Regions from separate parts of the Homo sapiens genome. Here all the other regions are linked to region 1. Evidence: fine-mapped expression QTL. A gene starts in region 1. Each other region holds a variant in brackets. All regions are shown on one strand. Distances are between the middles of the regions. Region 1 holds the start of VWDE (von Willebrand factor D and EGF domains). Region 2 overlaps LOC105375155 (a long non-coding RNA gene). Region 3 overlaps VWDE (von Willebrand factor D and EGF domains). Region 4 has its middle 90 kb from the start of TMEM106B.

What was found. PIP is the estimated chance that this variant, and not a neighbour inherited with it, causes the effect.
Region 2: its variant is fine-mapped to the expression of VWDE in whole blood (TOPMed, PIP 0.96).
Region 3: its variant is fine-mapped to the expression of VWDE in unexposed skin (GTEx, PIP 0.98).
Region 4: its variant is fine-mapped to the expression of VWDE in whole blood (TOPMed, PIP 0.97).

The regions. Positions count from the first base shown.
Region 1 is chr7:12,401,923-12,409,735 of GRCh38, reverse strand. It overlaps VWDE (von Willebrand factor D and EGF domains), which reads left to right and starts at 5,871. Exons shown (of 29, transcript NM_001135924.3): 1 at 5,871-6,077. The coding sequence starts at 6,020. LOC105375154 (a long non-coding RNA gene) reads right to left here and starts at 3,598. Exons shown (of 3, transcript XR_927035.4): 1 at 2,407-3,598; 2 at 2,080-2,198; 3 at 1,310-1,920. RefSeq lists silencers at 4,949-5,138, 6,076-6,125, 6,019-6,313 and enhancers at 5,450-6,015, 6,016-6,583.
Region 2 is chr7:12,427,177-12,435,620 of GRCh38, reverse strand. LOC105375155 (a long non-coding RNA gene) reads left to right here. Exons shown (of 3, transcript XR_927036.2): 2 at 1,093-1,165; 3 at 1,981-2,225. Among named protein-coding and RNA genes, the nearest start is that of VWDE, 28 kb to the right of the region's middle. The variant A/G (reference allele first, on the strand shown) is at 4,644.
Region 3 is chr7:12,375,917-12,379,916 of GRCh38, reverse strand. It overlaps VWDE (von Willebrand factor D and EGF domains), which reads left to right. Exons shown (of 29, transcript NM_001135924.3): 6 at 351-440; 7 at 1,997-2,141. Among named protein-coding and RNA genes, the nearest start is that of VWDE, 26 kb to the left of the region's middle. The variant G/A (reference allele first, on the strand shown) is at 1,697.
Region 4 is chr7:12,297,212-12,305,655 of GRCh38, reverse strand. No RefSeq gene overlaps it. Among named protein-coding and RNA genes, the nearest start is that of TMEM106B, 90 kb to the right of the region's middle. RefSeq lists a silencer at 1-107. The variant C/A (reference allele first, on the strand shown) is at 5,078.

The DNA of each region.
Region 1 (7,813 bases):
GGGCAATGGTTGCCTTCTTTTAGGAACTTTTAGGAACGTTCACAAGGCTAGTGAGTTGAAGTATAGCACATATGAGAGCTGAGGAGGGAGAGTGGGAGTGGGAGAAAAGCAATGTATTTGAGTTTGAACAGGTAGGCAGGGGCTAGCTGTTGCAGGTAACAGTCCTCTGGTATTTTTACCCATTATCTATGGGAGGCCAGTGAAAGGTTTTAGGGCAGGGACATGGTGTGATTTACAGTTTGAAAGCTCATCCCGGTATTATATGGCAGAGATGTAGATTGAATGGGGCCTGAGTGAAGCTCAGAGAAAAAATGTGGTATTTTCTGCAGTGATCCACGTAAGTCATGGGGAGGCTTGACCAGCAGAGTGGCAGAGAAGACACAGAACAACAGGTGAGTGTGAGATTTCTTTGGACTCCTTATTCATGGATTGAATACAAAGGAGGAGTCATGAATGAGAGAGAAGGGAGGAGCCTCATGCCTTTTTCCTAGTTGGTGACGAGGGATACTCAATAGTGCCATTTTCCAAAACAGGGAAGACTAAAAGAGGAACCAGGTTTAAAGGGGCTTTCTAGGAATAACTAAATAAGTGATTGCTTTAATTCCTTTCCTTTAAAAATTACATTTTTCCCCCCTAATTCTTGATCAGTATGAAGCAGATATATCACAGGTAAAACATTTTTGTAATGCAGATTTTAGGGCATTCTCTTTTCAACTATCAACTGTTTTTCTTTATTACTATGTTTAATGAAACAAAATTGGTTCTCTCTTCATTCCTATCCAGCTTTTTCTCATTCATTTTCAACACTTTTAAAAAGAAGGAACTTTTAAATGCAGAAAAAGGAAAGAAACTATAAGACAGGAAGTTCAGCCTATGAATGAGAATTAGAGATGGGGTATATTTGGCAAATATTACTTATTGGGCTTCAGTACCACTGAATCTTTGTCTTTTCTGTAGCTATTTTCAGTTACAATCTCTATAACTGTCTACAATGAAGTTATTAATCATTTATAGGTGGTCATCTGGCTAGTTGGAAGGAAAAGCCAATGGTATTCTAGACTTTCTAGCACTGAATAATCTTCTTGTGAAACATATTGAGCTTGTCATAACAAAATCAGCTTAACTGCTGATTTTCTTTCATTCTGCAATGAACACACCATACTTTTCCCTGAAACTTTTTGATTGGATAGCTTCTATGTGGTCAAATGATGAGTCCATTTCCTCCTAAACAAACCACTGTAAGGTTTCAATACAAATCTCAAGTGCATTTTTCTGTTTCTTCTGGCAAATGCATAAGCACAACCAAATATTTAATAATTTATACAGTTTATATTTTCAAACAGGTTTTAGACAATATTCTTTTGTTTATAAACAACAACAGCAAAACAAATTCAAAGTCACTTAACCTTAATTTATAGGCAGTGTATTGGGGGTATCTCTTTTTTTTTTTTAAATTTGTTGTTTATTTTTTAATTAATTAATTAATTTTTTACATTTTATTATTATTATACTTTAAGTTTTAGGGTACATGTGCACAATGTGCAGGTTTGTTACATATGTATACATGTGCCATGTTGGTGTGCTGCACCCATTAACTCATCATTAGCATTAGGTATATCTCCTAAGGCTATCCCTCCCCCCTACCCCCACCCCACAACAGTCCCCGGAGTGTGATGTTCCCCTTCCTGTGTCCACGTGTTCTCATTGTTCGGTTCCCACCTATGAGTGAGAACATGCGGTGTTTGGTTTTTTATCCTTGCGATAGTTCGCTGAGAATGATGGTTTCCAGTTTCATCCATGTCCCTACAAAGGACATGAACTCATCATTTTTTATGGCTGTGTAGTATTCCATGGTGTATATGTGCCACATTTTCCTAATCCAAAACAGGAAACATAGGCAGTCCTCGAAAGATTCTGGAGCTGTTGAGTGGAAAGCCATCAGGAATTAGCATATCTCTCTTTCTGTCACTGTCTGTCTGTCTCTCTTCCTCTCTGTCTTTTTGTGTGTGTGTGCACGTGTGGACGTGTATGAGTGCTTTTCTCTGTTTCTCTATTCTCACATGTTGTTTCTCACCTCACCTTCATTTTGGTCATCCACTTTTGTCTTTTTCCTCCCTCAGCTGATCAGTTTTCATTACTTGACCACACTTATAGCCACATTCAATGAGTCCTCAACGGTGTCCATAGGTTATTGAAAACTGCGATGTAAAGTGAAACAACATGTAATGAAACCAGTTTTACTACAGACAAATTGATATCAACATGAGTTAAATTACTATACCATATTTCTGGTCACAAAAACATCACCAACTTCTAAAAAAAGACCAAAATACTTCTAATATTAAACAGTAAAATAAACTATACATACATTGAGTAAAGATTAATGAAAACAAGATAATTATTTACCTCCTTACTCCAGTTCAGGATCACAGGTGGCCAGATCCTACACCAGGAGCTCAGGGCATGAGGTGTAAACCAGCTCTCTTCAGGAAGCCATCCTACCGCAGGGCGCGCTCACATACCCAACCACAATCACTCAAGCAGGGCCTATGTAGACATGCCAATTCACCCAACACACAGAGAGTTGAGAAGTGGAGGGAAACGGGAGTACCCAGAGAAGACCCACATAGACATGGAAAGAACGTGCCAATTCCACATAGACATTGGCCTCTGCTGGAAATCGATTTTTTCCATCAGTGTTATAACAAAATAACGTTAAACAAAATGACCAAGGACCTGCTGTATGTTTTAGCCTCTGCTTCTGAGTGTACTTGTGTTCAGCTCAAGTAAACCCCAGAAGCAATCCTATCAATTTTACATTTCTGGAAAAGGGCTCACTCATTTAGTAAAACATGGGATGAGGAATTCATATGTTACATAAATATGTATTTTCCAGGAAGGTTACTCCAAACTGTGCAGACACTGTAATAGAGTAGTGCCAAGAAATGATGCACCTTTATATAATAAGACATAAGAGAAAGTATAATTATGTAGAATATTACCCTAGTTCTAATAACAGTAAACTGTTACATTCGACCATAATAGCTACTTTGGACCAAATGCTATTCTGAGTGCTCTTTCTCCAGATGCTCTTCCACGCTCCCAGCCACACACAGGCATGCACATACACTTTTGATTCTTTAAGTCTATGGGGTACTATTATTGTCATTTCTATTGTACAGAAAAATGAGGTTAAGAGGAGTTGAGTGTGCTGTTCAAGGTTACACTTCTGATAAATAGGTAGCAGATCTAGAATTACAGCCCAGGTGTTTTTAACCTAGGATTTGTGGACTTAATCACTGGGTTTTTCTGCCCCTTGAATTTGGTATTTTTTTTCACTCAAGCCCATCACTTTGTAAATTAACCTGACAAAAACTGAGTTATCTCCTTTTCCTAGAAAATTATCATTTGAAAATTTTCTCCTGTTAATCTTTTAATTTAAGCTATATTGTACTTATTAGCACTTGGCTTCATTTCTTCTTCCCTCTGACATTCTTATTATTTGTCTCAGTGATATTTACTGCATTTTACAAGTGCTGTCAGTCTCTATATTGCGGGGTACCATGCATCCATTGTTTTTAATGTTCAAAAATATAAAAAAGAATCTTATACCAATTTTTGATTAACTTCACGAGACATAGATTAAAACATTTTCATTACTTTTTGTTTTCCATACAGTTCTATAACTAATTTTTTTTTTTTTTTTTTTTTTTTTTGAGATGGAATCTTGCTCTGTCGCCCAGGCTGGAGTACAGAGGAGCTATCTTGGCTCACTGCAACCTCTGCCTCCTGGGCTCAAACGATTCTCCTGCCTCAGCCTCCCGAGTAGATGGGACTACAGGCGAACGCCACCACGCCCATCTAATGTTTTGTATTTTTAGTAGAGATGGGGTTTCACCATGTTGGCCAGGCTGGTCTTGAACTCCTGACCTCAGGTGATCCGCCTGCCTCGACCTCCCAAAGCACTGGGATTACAGGCGTGATATAACCAGCATTTAATTGATACATTCTTGCAGATCCAAGCCAGGTTACTGAGACTTGAAAAAAAATTCTTAAGTTGCTTTTAGTTTTTTCCATCTTTAGTCACATGGAGGGAAGTTGGGTTTTGGCACAAGTTTATTGTAAACTCATAAACTCATAAACAATCAAAAACTGAAGAAAAAAATAAGGCCCACGATACCTGAAATTGTATTTTGATGGAAGTCAGATAAGTAATGTTGTCCTCCAAGAAAGTATAAAAGTTTACTACATTTGTATAGATACTGCTAGAAAATAAATTCACAAAAGTCCTGCTATGATTTGATTCACATCAAATTACTTTGTTCCTGGTGATTTCACAAATAGATTGAGAAAACTGACATTTAATTTCTTGTCTGTTTTATTAGAATTTTTTAAGCGGAAACAAAAGACTTAACTGTACACTAAGAAATCTCTGGGTTTTCATTGTGCCTACATTATATTGCCCTTCCATACTTAAGCCTTAAGATAAAAATCACCTGTCTACCGTCCACCAAAAAGTAATATTTTATTTTTAATCCAGAAAATTGGGTGCCCTTGCTGCATTTGAAAGATGGCTACACACAAGTATTGTGTACCAAAAAGAAATTATTTCCAATATGGGTTAATATTTTTACTATGGAGATGATAAGCTTTAAAATTTTAAATGGTAATTTACCTTTCAAATTAAAAATAAAGAATTATATGAAATTAAAAAAATACTTGTTTATGCATTTGGACACCTCCTGTTTCCACCACCATGCCTAGGCCAACCTTGAACCTCCAAATTTGTGGGTGGAACCTTGGTGCCCACTTGGACCCCCAAACTATCCTCTTCAGGTAAAGGCTCTGTGAGAACCAAGTGCAAGGTGATGGATGGGAGACTCAAGGAATGAGACAGCCAGGGAAAAACTAGGACAGTGAGGTTTCATTTTCAGACATAAAAAGATGTAGAATCAGTTGAAAAAAGGACCCTGTTCCTCTGCAGAGGCAACCACACTTCTGAAGACCTTAGACCTGGCACGGTGGCTCACGCCTGTAATCCCAGCATTTTGGGAGACTGAGGGGGAAGATCGCTTGACGCCAGGAGTTCAAGGCTCCAGCGAGCTGTGACTGTGCCACTGCACTCCAGCCTGGGTGACAGAGTGAGACCTTGTCTCGAACAAAACAAAACAAAACAAAAACGAGGTTGGGGGAAGACATTAGAGCCCTCTGATCTTCTAATAACTCCCAGGTCAACCTTGGGAGTCGTGTGGCCATGTGCTAAAGCGTCCTGGGACAACTGTAAGAGCTCTGGGAATCACTGGCAAATACAGGTGACAAACCTCATGGTTTGGCTAGTGTCTAAATGCGGTCCTTTCCACTTCTGAAAACCTGTCACAGAGGCAGAAGAAAAGGCATCTACTGTTGCAACGTTAGTGTCTACTCCTCCTCCTGTCGTTCATCACTGAGATCTAAGGTGACAGGAGCATTTTCAGCGCCTTCGCCTTGGGGTGCAAACCAGTAGCGCCCATTACGCAGTTAGGAATCCGTCTGCAGATACAATCATGGGAAACTTCCCCTTCCAACGGAACCTTGTGAGGCTTCTTTTATGCGAGGTCCATCTGAGCAGTTTCTAGGATTACCAAGTTTTCATACAGCCTCTGTTAGAACAGCAAGACGCAGCGGGCGGAGAGCTACATCCCTGTAGCTTGACTCCTGGCTGTGCGACTGCACGGTGACATCCAAGGCGGCGGAGCCACTGCCGGTACACGCTGGGCTATGGGGACAGGTTGGGCGTGGCTTTCAGGTCAGCCAGCAGCCAAAATGGGAAGGGAGGAGTCGCAGACGGATTACGCGAAGGCTCTATCCCACGAAAGGACTGGGTGCACCCCAGAACGAGGACGCGGAGCTTCCCTGTTCCAAGCAGCAACAGACTGAGAAAATCCAAGAAAGGAGGCCCGAGGGGCTGCTGTGGCCCCATCCTCCTGGCACCCGCGGCCCGGGCTCTGCGACGCCTTTCGCCCCACCTGCGGAAGCAGCGATGCCTGGCGGAGCCTGCGTGCTGGTGATCGCGCTGATGTTCCTGGCCTGGGGGGAAGGTAAGCGAGGTAGGGCGCGCGGGGGTGGGCGCGCAGTGGCGCCGCGTGGGCGGTAGAGGGACTAGGCTAGACTTTTTGGACGACTTGGGGAGCGTCCCTGTGCGTTTTAAGGCAGCAAGCGATGTTTGTTCCTCACCCGCCTCCTCTCTGTCCCTCTGCTGTCTTTGAAAAGGTCAATTTCCAGCTTGAAAACTCTACACTTTTCTTTTGCGCACATGCGGTTGTTGCCTCCTCTTACTCTACGACCCTTGGTTCTGTTTTTGGTTGTTTCCTGCTGTTATCCTGCTCTTTGAGGTCATTGTAATTTACTGTAAGAAACTTTCGCCGGATCTGCAAGGTATGCTAGCCGCAAGTGGACCTGAATTCTCAGAACAGAGTTGAATTCCATACTGCACGAATTCCACCTCCAACCGGACCCTCAGAAATAATTCATTGGTGAACATTTTATCCCTACAATAAATCACCAAGTTAAGTTTTGTATATCCGTATTATACTGTATTATGGTTTTTGTATATATATGTTAGAATCAGTTTTGGCACTGTAAAAGAGATCTCTGTGGAGCGAATACTCCCCTCCTACTTCTTTAATCCATGACAAAGAACATTTAGTTTAAAATACAGTGAAGTTAAACCAAAACTACTTTCATTAGCCCTTTTTGCTTGTTTTTTGTGTTCATACAGATAGGAATATTAATGAAAGGTGACTTGTTCTTATATTGCAAGTTTCCTTACGTTTTTCAGAAAAAGTCTGATCTGTGTTCAACCATCTGCAGCTTGAAAAAACATTATGTACAACATTTATAGCAGTCCAGGGTATAGTTTTGTCTTATCATTTTTTGATCTTAACTCATTTTACTGATGTAAGTTTGCTTTGTATAAGGGGAATACAAACACTATCCTATACAAAACTTAAAAATAAAATACTAAAATCAAATTTATTATTTTCTGCAATGATATTTTTTCTGGTCCTTCTTTGGTTTGCTTACAGCGTTACTAAATCTTTATGAATAACTTTAAAAAATACATGTAATAACATATATCTGTTCATTACAGTTAGATAAATATTTCCAGGAAAAAAATGACCAATGTTTATAAAGGAAGATGATTTCATGTTTACTATAGACCGCATAACCCTTTTTTGCCTCTATATAATAGCTTTGTAATCTCTCTGCTGAAGACAAATATTACCCATTACCAGGTTTTAAGTTCATAACATTGGTAACATTGTCAAGTTCTTTATGTTTAATGGAGTAAAACTAGAAGACGAGGTAAATGGAAAATGCATTTATTGAGACTTCTTTTTTTCAAATAGCTTTATTAAGATGTTCATATACCATACAAATCACTCAAAGTGTGCGACTCTATGGTTTTTCATTTTCACAGATATGTGTATATTCAGAGTATATTTACAGGTATATGCAGCGATGACCACAGTCAATTTTAGAACATATTTATCAATCAGAAAGAAATACTATACCCTGGGCTATCATGCCGCATGCCGGCTATCACCCTCCCTTTCTCCCCAGCGATAAGGAATTACTAATCTACTTTCTGTCTCATTGCATTTGCCTATTCTGGATATTTTATGTAAACTGAATCATATAATAGGTTGTCTTTTGTGACTGGCTTACTTCATCTAGCACAGTATTATCAAGGTTCATTCATCTTGTAGCATGTACCAGTATTTCATTCCTTTTTAAGATAGAATAATGTTCCATTGTGTGGATATACTATATT
Region 2 (8,444 bases), 26 kb before region 1:
CCAAGAGATTCTCCTGACTCAGCCTCCAGAGTAGCTGAGATTACAGGTGTCCACCACCATGCCCCACTAATTTTTTGTATTTTTGGTAGAGATGGGATTTATGTTGGCCAGGCTGGTCTTGAACCGCTAACTTCAGGTGATCCACCCGCCTTGGCCTCCCAAAGTGTTGGGATTACAGGCGTGAGCCACTCCACCAGGCCCCTTTTTTCTTTATAAATTACCCATTCTCAGGTAGTTCCTTATAGCACTGTGAAAACAGACTAATACATATGGGAAATAAGAGCCATAGAAATCTTGTGTTCATTTTTGTTATTGATTTTAAATTATTCTTGATTATGATATGATACATTAGTGGTATAATAAATAACTTCTTAGAAATTAATTAAGGTATACTTAAGGAAAAGCAATATAGCATGATTGAATAAAACATATGGGGTAGGCAGAGTGTCCCTTGTCAAGATAAAGAGTTAAGATACCAAAAATATATTAAACCAACTTCACAGATTTGCTCAGGAACTACCAAACAAATATATAGAAGCCAGATCCAGAGGCTACATATAAAATCTTTTATGAGGAAAATCATCTGCAACTCATACACTAATCCCAGAATGCATCTGTGAGTAGATAACAAAGCCCATTGTTTGGAAAATAATTTTGAAGTCCAGAGAATATTAATTTTAAAGTACATAGGAAGATTTTTTTCAGAAATAGGAATTTTCAGTAGGCCTTGATAAATTAGTAAACCCAGATGGAATATGGATGTCTTATTGTTATTTGATAACTTAAGTGGAAAAATACGGTCTCAGATAATTTGGTGATGTGACATTTCATTTTATAAACTAGTTGTTACTTACAGGGTATATCTATATAGGCATACTTGTAGTATTGTAGCAAAATGGATTCCAGAGGAAACTGCTGAATTTATATTAAAATAACTTGTTCATTATCAAAACAAGATCATCTTTAAAAATCTCATATTGCTTTGTACACTTGTTATAGAATATCCAAAGAATTAGGAAAAATAGAAATTCAAATTATTTAAACTGAACTTGTATTTTGCTTTAAATGTTGGCTGAAAACTCTTCATATCAGTTTCTTCTAGATAAAATTGGCACTGAGTTTATACTCAAATGAGAAGGCTGAAAGGAGTGAGGAAGTGTCATAGGTGAGTCTGAAAACTGAGCAATTAAGGTAGAAAAACATTTCAAAGAGCTCCTAGTTTAATAGATTGTATTCTCTTCTCCTTGCTTAATATTTCTGAAAAGTGAAAGCTTATGCAGTTGGTATGCATGAAAAGACCAAAATATAAGTTAAACCAGGTCATTTTAACATTTTAACTTCTGTGATTAATTATGTTTAGACACAGACCACTTTCCTCATAATTTTAGGAGCTTACTGCCACCTATGGATATGACTGGAGTATTACAATTTTCATTAGTTAATACAGTTCATCAATATTTATTATCAATATTGAATATTGAGTTAGGTACTGGGTAATCACATATGAATGGCTTATAGTATATTGGATGAGATAAACAGATAAAATTTCAGCATGATGAAATAAAAACAAATGTATTGAGACAAGAGTAAAGTTTAGTTTTCATTATGCGGATGTACAAAGCAGGAAGTATTAGGAGTGGAGGCTAAACCTTAGACACAATCCAGACAATGGCCAGATGTGTAGATTACAGGTGGTATGCTATGAGTTGAATCTTGGTCATTTTGTGTTCATTTGTTGATGGTATGAATATGAAGCTCAGGAAAAAGATCAGGACTGGAGGAGATACTTATGTATGAGCTGGTGGGTAAGAACAATAGGTACATTTGAGAGTGAATGGAACATACGATAATGTAAAGACAAAGTTTAGGTAAAGGAAAATTAGGAGAAACTAAGGAAACAGTTGCCCTTTTAATTATTATAACTGTGTCACAGAACTCTTTAAAAAAATGTATTAAAACATATGGTTTCTTGTTTTACAGCAACCTAGCAAATGCTGATTCTAGAAAAAGCCAACTTAAAAAAAGCACAAAAGCTTTGCATTATTTTTACTTGCCCTTGCCTCCCACCTACCCCGACTCAATGACAGTTTTGAAGCCAGCAGACTGCATTCTCAATAAAAGACCCTGGTTCCTGGTTCCGGAAAGGGCAGAGTAGTAGAACTTATTCTTAAACATAAATATTATTACTTTGTTTGGTAGTTTTGTCCTGTCGTGTAGCTTCCTGGAGGACAGACTCAAGGTATTCACCTTTGTTTTGTGCAACTCAGAAGTCTCTTAGGGCAGAAAAATGGCTGAGCAGAGTACATTCCTCAATAACATTATAAATCAAATGAAAAAACTTCATGCCATCTGGGGTGAGAGAGTTCAGTTGACACAAATAATAGAGACTCTAAAAACCTGGGGGAAAAATGTGGAAAGAGTTATTTGGGGAAAATTAGGGCATTGAAAAGTGCCAGTATACTGTGGAGTCTGTAAAGCCACATACATTCCCAGGGAAAAAGGATGCTCAGAAGAGACCCGAGAAGACCTTCACCTCTGGCTGAAATTTAGTCTCAGAGCAAGCAAGAAGTGAAATATAAGGAAGCATTGTGAAGGCCTGGCCAACCATTGAAGCATTGCCCCAACACAGAGCCAATCTATAAAGCCTGGAAGAATTTTTTTCCTTATTATTTTTTCTTTCTTTTATCTTGTTTTGTCCTTCTTCTTCTTTTTTTTCCCCAGGACTTCAGGAAAATCTCTTAAAAACACTAGTTAACCACAGGCAAAAAGAACAGAGATTCCTGAAACCATACATAACAAAGAATATAAACCATACAAAAACAGTACAGATAAGTCACTGGATAAATAATCACAACTCTCAGAAAACTACAGATCCAACATGAGGAATAGAAAGAACCTGATTTCTATAGTTAACACATTGTAATATTCAAAATGTCTAGTTTTCAACAAAAATTTATAAAGAATACAAAGAAATAAGAAAATATGGCCCATTAATTGGAGAAATTAGAAAGAATCTGATTTCTATCCCTGATGAAGCACAGACATTGGACTTACTTGACAAAAACTTTAAATAAAACTGTCTTAAATATGCTAAAATTGTTAAAGAAAACCATATAAAAAGAAATTGGGGTTCTGTTCCAAGATGGCCGAATAGGAACTGCTCCAGTCTGCAGCTCCCAGCATGTTCAACACAGAAGATGGGTGATTTCTGCATGTCCAACTGCGTTACCTGGTTCATCTCACTGGGACTGGTTGGACAGTGGGTGCAGCCCACAGAGGGCGAGCCAAAGCATGGCAGGGCGTCACCTCACCTGGGAAGCACAAAGGGTAGGGGGATGTCCCTTTCCTAGCCAAGGGAAGCCGTGACAGAGTGTACCTGGAAAAACGGCACACTTCTGCCCAAATACTGCACTTTTACGGTGGTCTTAGCAAGCGGCAGACCAGGAAATTCTCTCCTCTGCCTGGCTTGGTGAGTCCCACTCCCACAGAGCCTTGCTAATTGTTAGCACAGCAGTCTGAGATCAACCTGCAAGGCTGCAGCCTGGCTGGGGGAGGGGCATCTGCCATTGCTGAGGCCTGAGTAGGTAAACAAAGCGGCCGGGAAGCTCAGACTGGGCAGATCCCACCGCAATTCAGCAAGGCCTACTGCCTCTATAGACTCCACATCTGTGGGCAGGGCATAGCTGAACCAAAGGCAGCAGAAACTTCTGCAGATTTAAATGTCCCTGTCTGACAGCTCTGAAGAGAGTGGTGATTCTCCCAGCATGGCATTTGAGCTCTGAGAACAGACGGACTACCTGCTCAAATGGGTCCCTAACCCCCATGTAGCCTAACTGGGAGACACCTCCCAGTAGGAGCCAACAGACACCTCATACAGGTGGGTGCCCCTCTGGGACAAAGCTTCCAGAGGAAGATTCAGACAGCAATATCTGCTGTTCTGCAATATTTGCTGTTCTGCAGCCTCTGCTGGTGGTACCCAGGCAAACAGGGTCTGGAGTGGACCTCCAGTAAACTCCAACAGACCTGCAGCTAAGGGAATGTGTTAGAAGGAAAACTAACAAACAGGAATAGCATCAACATCAACAAAAAGGACATCTACACCAAAACTCCACCTGTACGTCACCAACATCAAAGATGAAAGGTAGATAAAACCACAAAGATGGGGAGAAACCAGAGGAGAAAAGCTGAAAAGTCCAAAAACCAGAGCACCTATTCTTCTCCAAAGGATTGCAGCTCCTCACCAGCAACACAACAAAGCTGGATGGAGAATGACTTTGACCAGTCGACAGAAGTAGGCTTCAGAAGGTTGGTAATAACAAACTTCTCCGAGCTAAAGGAGCATGTTCTAACCCATCACAATAAAGCTGAAAACCTTGAAAAAAGGTTAGATGAATGGCTAACTAGAATAAACAGTGTAGAGAAGACCTTAAATGACCTGTTGGAGCTGAAAACCATGGCATAAGAACTTCATGACACGTGCACAAGCTTCAATAGCTGATTTGATCAAGTGGAAGAAAGGGTATCAGTGATTGAAGATCAAATTAATGAAATAAAATGAGAAGACAAGATTAGAGAAAAAAGAGTGAAAAGAAATGGACAAAGCCTCCAAGAAATATGGGACTATGTGAAAAGACCAAGTCTAC[A/G]TTTGATTGGTGTACCTGAAAGTGACCAGGAGAATGGAACCAAGTTGGAAAACACTCTTCAGAATATTCTCCAGGAGAACTTCCCCAACCTAGTAAGACAGGACAACATTCAAGTTCAGGAAATACAGAGAACATCACAAAGATACTCCTTGAGAAGAGCAACCCCAAGACACATAATTGTCAGATTCACTAAGGTTGAAATGAAGGAAAAAATGTTAAGGGATGCCAGAGAGATAGATCAGGTTACTCACAAAGGGAAGCCCATCAGACTAACAGTGGATCTCTCTGCAAAAACTCTACAAGCCAGAAGACAGTGGGGGCCAATATTCAACATTCTTAAAGAAAAGAATTTTCAACCCAGAATTTCTTATCCAGCCAAACTAAGCTTCATAAGTGAAGGAGAAATAAAATCCTTTAGACAAGCAAATGCTAAGAGATTTTGTCACCACCAGGCCTGCCTCACATGAACTCCTGAAGGAAGCACTAAACATAGAAAGGAACAACCGGTACCAGCCACTGCAAAAGCATGCCAAATTGTAAAGACCATCGATACTAGGAAGAAACTGCATCAACTAATAGGCAAAATACCCAGCGAACATCAAAATGACAGGATCAAATTCACACATAGCTATATTACCCTTAAATGTAAATGGGCTCAATGCTCCAATTAAAAGACACAGACTGGCAAATTGGATAAAGAGTCAAGACCCATCAGTATGCTGTATTCAGGAGACCCATCTCATATGCAGAGACACACATAGGCTCAAAATAAAGGGATGGAGAAAGACCTACCAAGTGAATGGACAGCAAAAAAAAGCAGGGGTTGCAATCCTAGTCTCTGATAAAACAGACTTTAAACCAACAAAGATCAAAAGAAACAAAGCAGGCCATTACATAATGGTAAAGGGATCAATTCAACAAGAAGAGCTAACTATCCTAAATATATGTGCACCCAATACTGGAGCACCCAGATTCATAAAGCAAGTCCTTAAAGACCTACAAAGAGACTTAAGCTCCCACGCAATAGTAATGGGAGACTTTTAACACCCCACTGTCAATATTAGACAGATCAACAAGACAGAAGATTAACAAGCATATCCAGGACTTGAACTCAGCTCTGCACCAAGCAGACCTAATAGACATCTATAGAACTCTCCACCCCAAATCAACAAAATGTACATTCTTCTCAGCACCACATCACTCTTATTCTAAAATTGACCACATAATTGGAAGTAAAGCACCCCTCAGCAAATGTAAAAGAAAAGAAATTATAACAAACTGTCTCTCAGACCACAGTGCAATCAAATTAGAACTCAGGATTGAGAAACTCACTAAAAACTGGACAACTACATGAAATCTGAACAACCTGCTCCTGAATGACTACTGGGTAAATAACGAAATGAAGGCTGAAATAAAGATGTTCTTTGAAACCAATGAGAATAAAGACACAACATACCAGAATCTCTGGGACACTTTTACAGCAGTGTGTCGAGGGAAATTTATAGCACTAAATGCCCACAAGAGAAAGCAGGAAAAATCTAAAATCGACACCCTAACATCACAATTAAAAGAACTAGAGAAGCAAGAGTAAACAAATTCAAAAGCTAGCAGAAGGCAAGAAATAACTAAGATCAGAGCAGAACTGAAGGAGACAGAGACACAAAAAAACCCTTCAAAAATCAATGAATCCAGGAGCTGGTTTTAAGAAAAGATCGACAAAATAGATAGACCACTAGCAAGACTCATAAAGAAGCAGAAGAGGTAAGAATCAAATAGACATAATACAAAATGATAAAGGGGATATCACCACTGATCCCACAGAAATACAAACTACCATCAGAGAATACTATAAACACCTCTACACAAATAAACCAGAAGATATAGAAGAAATGGATACATTCCTGGACACATACGCCCTCCCAAGAGTAAACCAGGAAGAAGTGGAATCTCTGAATAGACCAATAACAGGCTCTGAATAATTAATAGCCTACCAACCAAAAAAAGTCCAGGGCCAGACGGATTCACAGCCGAATTCTATCAGAGGTACAAAGAGGAGCTGGTACCATTCCTTCTGAAACTATTCCAATCAATAGAAAAAGAGGGAATCCTTCCTAACTCATTTTATGAGGACAGCATCATCCTGATACCAAGCCTGGCAGAGACACAACAAAAAAAAGAGAATTTTAGACCAATATCCCTGATGAACATCAATGCAAAAATCCTCAATAAAATACTGGCAAACTGAATCCAGCAGCACATCAAAAAGTTTATCCACCATGATCAAGTGGGCTTCATCCCTGGGATGCAAGCCTGGTTCAACATATGCAAATCAATAAATGTAATCCATCACATAAACAGAACCTATGACAACACCCACATGATTGTCTCAACAGATGCAGAAAAGGCCTTCGACAAAATTCAACAGCCATTCATGCTAAAAACTCCCAATAAACTAGGTATTGAAGGAATGTATCTCGAAATAATAAGAGCTATTTATGATAAACTCACAGCTAATATCATACTGAATGGGGCAAAAACTGCAAGCATTCCCTTTGAAAACCAGCACAAGACAGGGATGCCCTCTCTCACCACTCCTATTCAACATAGTGTTGGAAGTTCTGGCCAGGGCAATCAGGCAAGAGAAAGAAATAAAGGGTATTCAAATAGGAAAACAGGAAGTCAAGTTGTCCCTGTTTGCAGATGACATGATTGTATATTTAGAAAACCCCATTGTCTCAGCTCAAAATCTCCTTAAGCTGATAAGCAACTTCAGCAAAGTCTCAGGATACAAAATCAATGTGCAAAAATCACAGGCATTCCTATACACCAAGAACAGAAACAGAGAGCCAAATCATGAGTGAACTCCCATTCACAATTGCTATAAAGAGAATAAAATACCGAGGAATACCACTTACAAGGGATGTGAAGGACCTCTTCAAGGAGAACTACAAACCACTGCTCAAGGAAATAAGAGAGGACACAAAAAATGGAAGAACACTCCACGCTCATGGATAGGAAGAATCAATATTGTGAAAATGGCCATACTGCCCAAGGTAATTTATAGATTCAATGCCATCCCCATCAAGCTACCAATGACTTTCTTCACAGAATTGGAAAAAACTAAAGTTCATATGGAACCAAAAAGGAGCCCTCATTGCCAAGACAATCCTAAACAAAAAGAACAAAGCTGGAGACATCACAGTACCTGACTTCAAACTATACTACAAGGCAGCTGTGCTTGGTGTCTCATGCCTGTAATCCCAGCACTGTGGGAGGCCGAGGCAGGTGGATCATGAGGTCAGGAGATCAAGACCATCCTGGCTAACATGGTGAAATCCTGTCTCTACTAAAGATACAAAAAATTACTGGGCATGGTGGCGGGTGCCTTTGGTCCCAGCTACTTGGGAGGCTGAGGCAGAAGGGCGTCAACCTGGGAGGCAGAGCTTGTAGTGAGCCGAGATCATGCCACTGCACTCCAGCCTGGGTGACAGAGCAAGACTCTGTCTCAAAAAACAAAAACAAAAACAAAAAGAAACTATACTACAAGGCTACAGTAACCAAAACAGCATGGTACTAGTACCAAAACAGATATATAGACCAATGGAACAGAACAGAGGCCTCAGAAATAACACCACACATCTACAACCATCTGATCTTTGACAAACCTGACAAAAACAAGAAATGGGGAAAGGATTCCCTGTTTAATAAATGGTACTGGGTAAACTGGCTAGCCATATATACAAAGGTGAAACTGGATTCCTTCCTTACGCCTTATACAAAAATTAATTCAAGATAGATTAA
Region 3 (4,000 bases), 28 kb after region 1:
TTTCACAATGTTGGCCAGATGGTCTTGATTTCTTGACCTCGTGATCCGCCCGCCTCGGCCTCCCAAAGTGCTGGGATTACAGGCGTGAGCCACCGCACCCGGCCTTAAGTACTTTTTAAAAACATCCTAAATACAAAGCCTACTATACTTTATGTTGAGGTTTGAATACGTCATATTTTATAATGATGGAATTTTTCTGAAATATCAAGTAAGCTTTTAAATTATTTAATTCTTTTATTATCTTTATATACTATCTATGAAGAATTAAATTTAGGATTTTAAAAGTGATAATTTACACGTTTTCTCCAAAATTGAATTTCTAAGTGATTATTTTTTAATTATATCCATAGATATTCTGCAGCGCTTCTGTCTTTTTCTTGGAGAATCCTCATGTACAAAGTGTAGCCATCGAAAGCCAAGAATTTTTTGCAGGCTTTAAGGTACGCAGCAGTGGGGATGCATCAGAAAGATTATTCCTCTGGAACTATGTTTCCCAAACTGTGATCTGTCCATGCTGGTTTCTGTACCTCATCACAGACTGAATCGGAATGTTGAGACCCATGAGTCCCCATATTTGAAGAAAAGCCCCAGTAATTCTAATGCGCAACAAAGTTTGAGGGGTCTTGTTAACTAAAGTTGAGATGTACCTTCATTTTTTAAAGAAATAGCTCAAATTAGAGTAAAGCAGAAGGTCTATTCCTCTAATTCATTCCATCGTGTAACGAAAGTTAGCCTAGTAATATTTAGTTATCATGCATTTTGGAAGACAGATACCAGGCCAAGTAGTAGAGTCTCTGACTAGAGTAGAATTGACCCAGAGCTATGAGTTTTATGGACTGCAAAGATTGAGCTAGCTAAACAGAGGAGGAGATTTGGTTGTTGCTGGTGGCAATAGGATCCAAGAACTGAAGAGCTATTCTAGCAGATGAGCAGAGATGACAGGGAATTAATAAGCAGTGGAAGAAGTGGGGGCAATATCAAACGGTCCAGGCAGGCAAGCACGGTGAACCTGGAAGGTCTCACCCACAGGACTCGAGTTTGACCTGGATTCATTTCTCGTTCAAGGACAAGATGAGATAAATGGTAAGATTGTGAGAATAGGACTCAGGACCAGGATAAACCCTGTTTATGAATAAAGTCCATGTACACACAGTAGGAACCAGGAAAAGAAGTGAGAAGAGTGGACCACTTTGTCAGAATTGCATAACTACAGCGTGAGGGGAAGCAGAGGTCAAGCTTTGAGAACACAGGAACATTTTGGTTTACATTGGTTAGCACTCAGCAGACAGTGTCAGGGGTCAATAGTCAGCACCCCCACCCTTGTACCCTTTCTGATTAGGCTAACAGGGAGAATATTCAGTATTAAGAATCATCTGTTTTGAGAGCTAGCCAAGACTCGAGACTGCATGGAAACATTCCTGCCTCAAAAAAGGTTTGGCCTGTGAATGAAGATAGGGCCAGTCCTGGGTTGCACCAGTTCTCAGGAAGTTCAACTCTGGAAATCAGATGCTGAGAAATAAGCTAAGTGTGGAGATATTTCAGGTGACAACAATAATTTGATTTATGTATTAAAAGTACTTAAATTTCTAATTGAGATGGTGGTATTAATCCCTAAGAAAAACCAGAGTCTTCTGTTGGTGTGTCAGTAAACATTAGCAATAAAGTGGAAGAAAATAGAAATATTTCTTTCTTCTTC[G/A]CTTTCCAGTGCTCACCACAGAACCAGAATCATTGAGGCAGGCTTGGATATGATTTGCCAAATGTGTTGGGGAACCAAAGTGAGTCAAACTCAGAGCAGTACAGCAGCTCCATGTACTCCTGTGTGTGCTGCTTGTATTTGTATAAGTTTGATTTTAATGGTCTTGCTTAGTTAAAACATTCTAGGGCTTAAGTTATTATTTAGTAAAATATGTGCTGTTGAGAAAATGCCCTTTCAAAACTGTGCCTTAGAAATAAATTATATTTTAACATAATTTTTCTACGTATTTTCTTATACCAGCTACAGCCTGAATTGAGCACTATATCAGAGGATGGGAAAGAATACTACCTGAGGATAGAAAGCACAGTTCCTATTATTTGTTCTGAATTTAGTGAGCTTGATCAAGAATGCAAAATCTCATTAAAACTGAAAACTATTGGTCAAGGTAATATACTAACTTTATTTTATCTTATTATTAGATTGCAAACAATAATGCTTTTTTTTCCTGTAGGAAAAGTCACTGGAGTGTACTCATATAATAAATCATGTTGCATGTTGACATCAAATTTTAGCCCAATCATATTACTAATACTCGGCCAAACTGACGATTGCCAAAGCAATTCACATTTCTTCTTCTTGGCTGAAAGCATACATTTTAAAAAAAGAAAAAAAATAGTGAATAATCTCCTCTTCGTCATCATCTTTTTCCTCTCGCTCCTCTTTTTTTCTCCTATTTTTTTCTCATTCTCCTGTTTATTCCTCTGTTTGCTTAGTTTACAGAAAACGAGGGAAAAACTGCTCTTTAAGATTTTTCAAATCATCCCCAATGAGAGACATTTGATAAGTTACGTTAAAAGTTCAAGCTTATGAAATATAGATCTCATAATGCATCCTTCAAGTTTCTCTCCCTAACGTACGTTTATGTTTGGGATCTTGTGTCTTAAAATTCTTCTATTTCAATTACTGATTATATGGATGTTGTGATACATGGCCACATATGTGTCAATGGATAGAGTGAAGAAATCCTCCCACATAACAAGATAGAATATGCGAGGACAAACCATGCATAGCAGTGATTGGCTTGATTATGTTCTTTTTCCCACTGAGCCCCTGATGTAGAGATCAAAGCAAGTTACAGATACATAAAATATAACCTTTAAGAGAGATTACAATTTCATTGGCATACCACATACATTTTCACCGTAGAACATTACATTGTCTTTAGTAAATATACCAAACACAAGGTATCTATAGACCTTCATGTCCATATTATAAATAATTAAATCAGAGAAACAAGAAGATAAAAAAGCCAGGAGAGAGAGAGAGAGAAAGAGAATCATTTGGAATGATGCACTCAAGAAAAGAGATGGCTAAAGAGATAGAGGAATTAAGAGAGGTCATCTTAGGATTGTTAACAGTAAGCAGGCTCAGTAATACCTACCTACTCGCTCAGATTTCAGGAGCACCACGAGCAACATTGTATTTTTAATTACAGCCTAGACATATTACATTATACCCTCTCTCGGACTATTTGACACAATTCTACTTCAAGTTAGCTCTGAAAAGTGTATTATGCAAATATTACTATAGTTTATGGAGAGAACAGAAAGAGGATGATGTTATTGATGTTTTCCAAAATCATGTTAGTCAAAGATTTTCTTCAGTTACAGGTATACTTTAAAATATATTTTCATGCTTTCAATTCTTTCAACAAGGCAAGCATTGCTAAAATAATATAATAATAGCCTAAATATATTTCTACATTTTAGAAGTTTGCATGCATGTTCTTATTCTCTGAGAATTAAAAATGGCTTTTGTTTGTTGAAGAAAAAATTCTGGATTTCATTCTGGATACCCCTCATCTTGTCCTCTTTAAGTACAGTAGCATTAAATCTTTACTTTCATAGGGAACCAGTTGGTGTCTGAGTGTATTTCTAAACAGACTATGCTGCTATTCACAGGCTTAAAGAGAACAACCCCTCATGTATTGGCTTGAGGAATGGATGTTATGGGCTATATCTAAGCTAGAAATATTCTGTATTCACCTTAGAGAGTTGGTTAAGAGTTTGAATGTTTCTGTTATTTTTTATGTGCATGGGAAAAGTATATATTTCTAAAAAAATAGTTCAGTATGCCTATATCTGATTAATATAACTTCATACCTAAAAAATCTGTATGGAAGAAAAGAAGATAGAACATTTTTTAACAACTTTTTTCCTTTTAGATTCTTAGGAGGACTTTGGAATCATTAATTGGATATGATAGCATACTTCCTCTCTGACCAATTTTGGGGGCAAATCTGTT
Region 4 (8,444 bases), 100 kb after region 1:
AGGTGGGGCCATCTTGTTGTCAGAAGTGCAAAAACCTGAAGAGACATCTCAAAAGGCCAATCTTAGGTTCTATAATAGTGATGTTGTCTTCAAGAGTAATTGGGTAAGTTGGAAATCTTATGACCTCTAGAATAATGGCTGGAAGTTATTTAGAATTCAAACCCCTCTCATCCTAACTTGGTGGCCTTTCATTAGTTTTACAAGGAGAGTTTTGATTTTCAAAAGGGCTATTATTTCAACTATAAACTGAATTACCTCCAAAGTTTGGCCCATCCCAAGGAATGAGTGAAGACAGCCAACATATGAGACTAAAGACAAGTTAGAGTCAAGCATGTCATATTTCTCTCACTGTCATAATTTTCTCAGGTGTAATTTTTTTGCAACAGGTATAATGACTGTTATACCCATTGCAGATGAGGAGTTAAGGAAGATGTTTCCCTTTCTTGAATGAACTACTTGATTATTGCCCTAAGCAATTCTTATCTAGGTTGCTCACTGTAATCTGTGCCCTTTGGCTTTGTAAATTTCTCCAAACTAGTATAAAGAGAGTAGACTGGCTTGGGAAGTGTGATTTCAGGGGACAAGCTGGGGGTCCCTCTGTTCCATACAATCTTTGGTAGATTTGACCTCTGTTTTAACCCCATTACTGTCGATTATATTCATTCCATTTTTAATAACTATGTAAAAAGTTTCCTAAGTTTGCATTTCTAAAGATAAAGATCTTATATAGAACAAGTTAGAAAATTTACATCTCAAAGGCACATAAGTTAAATTTCCGGCCTAAATGCCATTATTTGCCTAGACAAAGAAAAGTATAGGTAGGAAGCACAGTTAAAATAAAATGGTCAAAGGTGAGGTTTGCTTAGACCAATGCTCTCCCCCATTGTAAGAATTTCTGCTCATTTTCCTTCATAGATATATCTTTTTTTCAAAAGAGTTTCAAAATAGCTAAATGTTAAAAAGTTACATTTTTGAGCCTAATTTAGTTCCATAGGTGTTCTGTTTAACTTGGTTTTGTTAGCAGTGGTGCATCCATACGGGTCTGCAGCAACTTGATTCTTGCCTTCTTAGAGAAAAGAATTCTACCCAGGTGCATAAGGCAGAGCAAGAATGGCAAATTTTAGAGCAGGAGTGAAAATTTATTAAAAAGTTTTAGAGCAGGAACAAAAGGAAGTAAAGTATACTTGGAAGAGGGCCAAGTGGGCAACTTGAGCTGTCCAGGTGCCTTGTCCAATCTTTGACTTGGGGTTTTATACATTGTCATGTTTCTGTTATTTGTTTTTCTTCTCTCCTGATTCTTTCTTGGAGTGGGCTGTTTGCATGTGCAGTGGCCTGCCAGCACTTGGGAGGGGACACATGTGCAGTGTGTTTACTGAAGTTATGTACGTGCTCATTTAAGAAGCCTTTTTCCCTTACAAGTCGAGTGTTGAGAAAGATGTGGAGGTAATTAGAGAAATGGAGGAAAATTTGTATTTGAGGTTCCATGTCCTGTTGGAGTAACATGCAGAAGACAAATGCTTAAACAGACAGGACAATTCCTCTGCTGCAGGAGGAAGTGGGAGAAAGCAAGAAGAATACTCATAGAAAGCTTCCATACACTCACAAAAACAGCATCCCTTGGATTCGAGAGGGCAATGTTGATTTGCCCTCTTGACATAAAGGAGGAAATTCTGAATGACTTGGGGCTTGGGATAAGGGCTCGCAAATGGCAAAGGAATAATTTTCCCTCCTCCCAAAGGGGTGCTGGCTCAAAAAAAGCAAGTAGGTGGGGTCCTTAAATGGCCACAGACGGAGATCCTATGAAGGCAGACAAATTTCACCAAAAGCCAAAAAAACTTGGCCCTGAAGAATAACAGGGACAAAAGATATATGGTGAATCATAAGGAGCTGGCAGAGCCAGGGTTCCAATTAATGTCTTTCCTGGCAGTGAGCCAAAAGACATCCTTAAGAGAGCCTGTTTCTTTGCTGCTGCACAAACACAGCACGAGCTACACCATGAATAACAGTGTATGTTTCAGGCAGAGAAGGAAGTCATAAGGCACGTAAAGTGAAAGCAGAGAATAGGCAGACTTGTCCCTAAGGTGAATAGCCTTGTGGGTTTTCAAGCCCATTTCAAAATATACACAGAGAAAACAGGAGAATACGCAGTGCAGGTTTTTTGGAAAGAGTTTATTTTAGTTGATAAATCAGAGGAAACCCCAGACGTTGCACAGTGTTAGGCTTTAGACCTACCATTCTCATGAGCCTCCTGTCCAGCAGGGCCATGAGTGTCTCAGGTGTACTCAGTGCAGACTCCAAGGTTCTTTCTACTCCTGTGAGTCACTGTCAGGGTGAGCTGAGAGATCAGCCAGGGGAAGTAGAGCCACTGTGACTGACAGAAATCATCCTGAGGGTTGGTTAGTAAGCAGGAGAGCAAAGGGGGAGAAGGAAACCTCATATGGGGATTGAATAACTCCAGGCAAAGGAGGCAAGGCAGAGAGAGATCTTACAACTAGGTAACGTATCTGAGTCACAACACCAAAGTATGTTAGTTGCAGCAAATACATATGCATGTGTAGCAACTGGATTCTTGCCTCCTTGGAGGAAAGAATTCAACTGAGGGGCCTAAGGTAGAGGGAGAAACCAAGACAAGTTTTGGAGCAGGAATGAAAGTTTACTAAAAAGTTTTAGAGCAGAAACAAAAGGATATGAAGTGCCCTTGGAAAAGGGCCAAGCGGTCAATTTAAGTGATCCAAGTGCCTTGTCCAACCCTTGACTTGGGGGTTTTATACATTGGCATGGTTCCAGGGTTTGTTTCTTCTCCCTTGATTCTACCTTGGGCTGGGTTGTCCATGTGCACAGTTGCCTGCTAGCACTTGGGAGGGGCAGCATGCACAGTGTTTCCTGAAGTTGTGCGTATGCTCATTTGAGGTGGTTTTCCTTTACCAGCTGAGGGTTCCTAGAGGAAGGTCATGTAGCAGTTAAACTCTACCATTTTGCCTCTTAGTGTGGATACTTGAGCCCACTTACCCAACTCCTAAGATCTTACCAGGAAGCTGCTGCTCACCAGGTTCAGGTGTTTTCTATTGTGAGACTGCCCTTTCCTGGCACCAGGTGCGACCAATTATTATTTTAGAAAGACAGTTGAACAAGCTGTCTGATCACCTGATGGCCCCCTGACATTCCTGTCAGGGGAAGGCCTCTCTTGCCCTGCACATGTCTGCCTAGCTACCTACTCTAACAGTTTCTGTTTTAGGAAACAGAATCTTCTGCTTTTAAAACAGAATTCTAAATTCTAGATTCAGTAATCCAGAACTTAGATTCTAGATTACTCAGTTTATTTAGGGTGGGCTCCATTAATGAATAGGGCAAACAAGCATTTTCTATGCCTGGACTCCACATGGATAACTCTGAAAAGGAAGAAAACCTTCTTTACATGAGGGCCAAAATTACTTTTTATTTAGCTTTCTTTATTCCTTTAGGGAGGAATAGTAACTATGCTAAAGGTTGACAGATTCAATTTTTTAAATCAATTAGTCTCTTAAGCTTTTTAATTGCCTTTTGTAAACAAGTCTTTTAAAAGATGCAATAAAAATTGTACTGAAATCTTTCTAGAGGCTTCCACACATCAATAGGAATCCCTGGGTAAGCCTAATTTGGTACCCCTCATTTTTAAGTGCACTTTTTAAAGTACAGTATTCTTCATCTGGGAGGTTCTATATAATGGCCATTGTAATTCTCCATTATCTTAAAAAAGATTTTGCCTTTAAAAATTTGAGGCTACCAGTGCCTAATATTTATACGTATAAAAAGCAGGCATAGCTGGAAAGTGGAGTGGTCAGTTCTTTAGAAATTAAGGATCTTGTTTTTATTCTGGCCCTTGGGTCAATCAGAGCAGAGATAAAATCCTATGATGAAAAGACCAGAGCATTGTGTATTCTAATACTTTCACAGAGTACCTCATTGCGCAAAGTTTTCTTGAAGCTGATGGGTGACCTACATCAACTAACCCATTTTTGTGACCATGGGAGTCTTATTTTGGTGGTGACTGCTCCAATACCTCTTAGGTGCCTATTCCATGCCTGTTACTGGTAATTAGTCAGGTATGAGCGTGGCAGGAGACGGTTCCACCCACCCCCACCCCTATCCCCACCAGGAACGTCAGGCAATCATCAGGTGACCATTCAGCAGCTATCACAGTAGCTCTCTAAAAATGATAATTGGCAGCCAGTGCCAGGGAGAAGCAACTTCCTGATGGTTGACAGTTTTCAAACTAAAGTGATAATTAATTGCAGGCAGCAGGGAGAAGCAATTTCCCAAACAGATAAAAACACTTGACATTGGTAATCAGCTTCCAATAAAATCTCAGGAATTGGCCAAGTGAGCTCAGGCATGCGCATTAAGAGACAAAATAGCAGAGTATGGCTTTCTGGGGGCATTCCACCAGAAAAGGGAAAACCCAGGTGGGCATGCATATAACTTCCTAAACACACTGTGCATGCTCACCTCCCAAGCATAAGGAGGGCACTGCACATGTGGGCAGCTCACCCTTCAGAAAGAATGTAGGGAAAGGGATGCAAGAGGTCAGAAGTGGGCCAGCACATAAAAGTCTTAGGATCAAGTTTAAATGGGGAACTTGCCTTCACACTGCCCACTTGAATCTCTTCCAAATGTACTTTCCTTTCTTTCCTGCTCTAAAGCTTTTTAATAAACTTGCACTCCTGCTCTGAAAGTTGCCTCAGTCTCTTTTTCTGCCTTATGCCCCTTCAGTTGAATTCTTTCTTCTGATGAAGCAAGAATTGAGGTTGCTCCAGACCTGCACAAATTTGCTGCCACTAGCATGCCCACCAGTCAAGTTTGTGTCTTTGGCTCTGAGATTGCCTTGACCAACATAGCTAATAATTTTTCTCTACCTAAGCATGCAAGAAAAAAACACATTTCTGAAAACTTTCAAAAGCCAAAGTTCATACTTCCGGCGGTAATTGCCATTTACTGCTAGTTTCTGCCTGACTTAGTCAAACACCTGAGGCCTCCCTACAGAACCCAATCCTGTTTCTGTTGTGACTTTCACTCTTATCGGTGACTTGTCAACCACACA[C/A]CCCAAGGTTGGTACTCTCTTTTACAGCACAATCTAAGCCTGGATTCAAAGGCCAAAAAGATCTGGGTTGGGGGAACACTCAATGCAAGAAGAACAGAGTCTGATCCAAAATGAAGTTGCAGCATGTAGCGGTCCATAAGGAAGAAAGGGGATCCATGAAGGGGTCAATGGAGGCTCTCCTGTGTTCCTCAATAAGTCTCATAAATTTTCAGCAGCATTTTGGGTCCCCTTCTTCTGGTAACCAGATACTGTCAAAAGACAAAATTACAATAAACTTAGTTTAAATATCCTAATTGGCTTTTATTTGCAATTTTAGAATCAGACAACACATTATTCGATAAAATAAAATGAATGTCCTGATGAACTGAGCAAAGTTATTTGGCTTTATAGACAGAAAAGTGCTAAAGATAGCAGAAACAGAGAACAAAAAGACAATTGGTGTTTTGAAATTGCTTTCCTTGTAAAGGTTACTTCCTTATCATGCTGGCTAAAACTGGCCTGTTTGGAGATTCTGCTATGATGGAAATAAAAATATTTTACCCCAAAATAGATTTCTTTGACATATTTTGAGATGGCTGTTCAGAGAGAGAGCAAACTGACATAACCCTGAAGGGTTATCTTTTGTAGGAGAGATTTGCATCTGTAGAATATCTACATTAGTGAGCCCAGGTTTTCTCTGAGGCCTCTCCTTGTCTGGATCAAGGAAAAATTAACTGAGAGTTCAACACCTTTAAAGGTTTTTAAAAGCATTTACTATCTATTCTCTCTGAGGGCTGCTATCCTCAGAGAGGGTAGGTTTCATTTACATAGCAAGACTATCTTTGTTAGACAGGCCTCCTCTTCTCCCCCTCTCATATCCTGCTTTACCACCTGTATTAGTCCATTTGCATGCTGCTGTTAAAGACATACCCGAGACTGGGAAGAAAAAGATTTTTAATCATCTTACAGTTCCACGTGACTGGGGAGGCCTCACAATAATGGCAGACAGCAAAGAGGAGCAAGTCACGTCTTACATGGATAGCAGCAGGCAAAGAGAAAGAGAGCTTGTGCAGGAAAGCTCCCATTTTTAAAACCATCAGATCTTGTGAGATTTATCCACTATCATGAGAATAGCATGGGAAAGACCCACCCTCATAATTCAATTATCTCCCACCAAGTCCTTCCCACAACACATGGGAATTATGGAAGCTACAAGATGAGATTTGGGTGGGGACATAGAGCCAAACTGTATCACCACCTTAACCTGTTTTGCGAGCAATCCAAGCCCTTATTCTTTCTGTAACCTCAAGATGTTATAAAAACATCTGAACACCATTCCAGGGTAGGGTAATTACATTGTAGTTCTCCCTTGTATGATTGCTAACAAATCTGTATGCTTTTTCTTCAATTTGTTTTTTGTAAGTTGACTTTTCAGTGAAACTTCAGAGGGTGAAGGGAAGGTTTTCCCCTGTCCCCTGCAGCTATAATCTCTCTCCTGATTTCTTGAAAGATCTGATAAACAACTTAGTTTTGGCTTGGTGGCTTTGAACTTCGGCATAAATAACTTCATTTTGGCATAAGTAACTTCATTTTGGTTTGGCCTGTTGGGCGTAGTGCAGAAGCCCAGTTCAAATAATAGCTTTCTATAAATTTTACTTAACAATCATTTTGATGAGAAATGGCAAATAACTAGGTCAATTTTTCCAACTGTAGGGACCAAGGGGAACCCTTATAACCACCCAACAGGTTCACTTTGCCCAGTGCCTAGACAGAGCTGATTTATCAAGACAGGGGAATTGTAATGGAGAAAGAGTAGTTCACGCAGAGCTGGCTGTGTGGGAGACCAGAGTTTTATTACTATTCAAATTGGTCTCCCCAAGCACTAGGGAATCAGAGTTTTTAAGGATAATTTGGCGGGTAGGGGCTCAGGAAGTGGGGCATGCCAACTGCTCAGGCTGGAGATAGAATTATAGGGGTCGAAGTGAGTTTTCCTTGCTGTCTTCTGTCCCAGGGTGGGATCATAGAACTGGATGAACTACATTACCCTTCTGGGTGGTGTCAGGTGATCCATCAAGTGCAGGGTCTGCAAAATATCTCAAGCACTGATCTTAGGATTTACAATAGTGATGTTGTTCCCAGGGGCAATTTGGGGATGTTCAGACTGTTGTAGCTGGAGGCTGCGTGACCCCTAAACCTTAATTTCTAATCTTGTAGCTAATTTATTAGTCCTACAAAGGCAGACTGGTCCTCAGACAAGAAGGTTTTTTTTTTTTTTTTTTTTTTTTTTTTTTTTTTTAAAGAAAGGGCTAGTATCATTTTTGTTTCAGAGTTAAAGGTTAGTTCAGCCTATGCCCAGGAACGAACAAGGACAGCTTAAAGGTTAGAAGCAAGATGGAGTTGGTTAGGTCTGATCTCTTTCATTGTCATAATTTCCTCCGTTATAATTTTTGTAAAGATGGCTTCACCCTTGGCCCTCTGGAGGTTTGCTGAAAAAAACCAACTTGCAAAGGGCAGATTAATAATAAAAAAAAAGGGCATATAAATTTATGTAATATGTATGCATAGGAGACTTCAGAATGAAGATTTTACCCCCAGTGTGGTACAGATGCTTATGCATCATCTTGAGGTTGCAGAAGGAATGTGGGCTCAGAACATGACCCAAAACAGGTTATGCTGGTAAATCAGGTCTTAGTGGCAAGACAGATTCTGGGAGGGAGGAAACAGGAAGCTTAGCTAGTAAAGGTGGCGTTGTTATATAGATGAAGCTTTGCTTCACAGGCAGCAGCCCTTGGAGAGAATAGATGGTAAGAGTCTTTTTCAGACTTTTGAATGTTTCAGACTCAGTTAATCTTTCTCAGTTAATCTGAATAAGAGACGGGCTGGCTGCATTAATGTAGATTCTCTGCACATCTACAAATGCAAATTTCCCCCACAGAAGACAGCTTTGCAGGGCCACTTAAAAATATGCCAAATTAATATATTTTGGGGTAAAATTTTTTATTTCCTTCACACTCCAAAATCCACTGTACCCTGCTCCCCATTCTTGAGCTTTCCTTCTGACCTCACTGTGCTTTTAAATAAATAAAATGACCAGAAATAAAATCATAAATGCTGATGTGACAATTGTTTAATAGTCATGTTTCTAGTTCTTAGGTTGAAGGTGTCTTAAATTATCATCAATATTTCATCACATATAAAACATAGTTCAGCTATTAAATTGTAGAACATTTAAATCGGGAAAGAAAAAAAAATCCAGTTAAGATCTGGACTCTAACAATCCAAGAGACTAAAAAGTTTTAGTACCTATGTTTTGGAGTTGGTAAATTAAGCTTGTCTTAGAAGTTTTAAATTTAAGGAGAAACTTTAAATTCAGGGTATTATTGGCTAC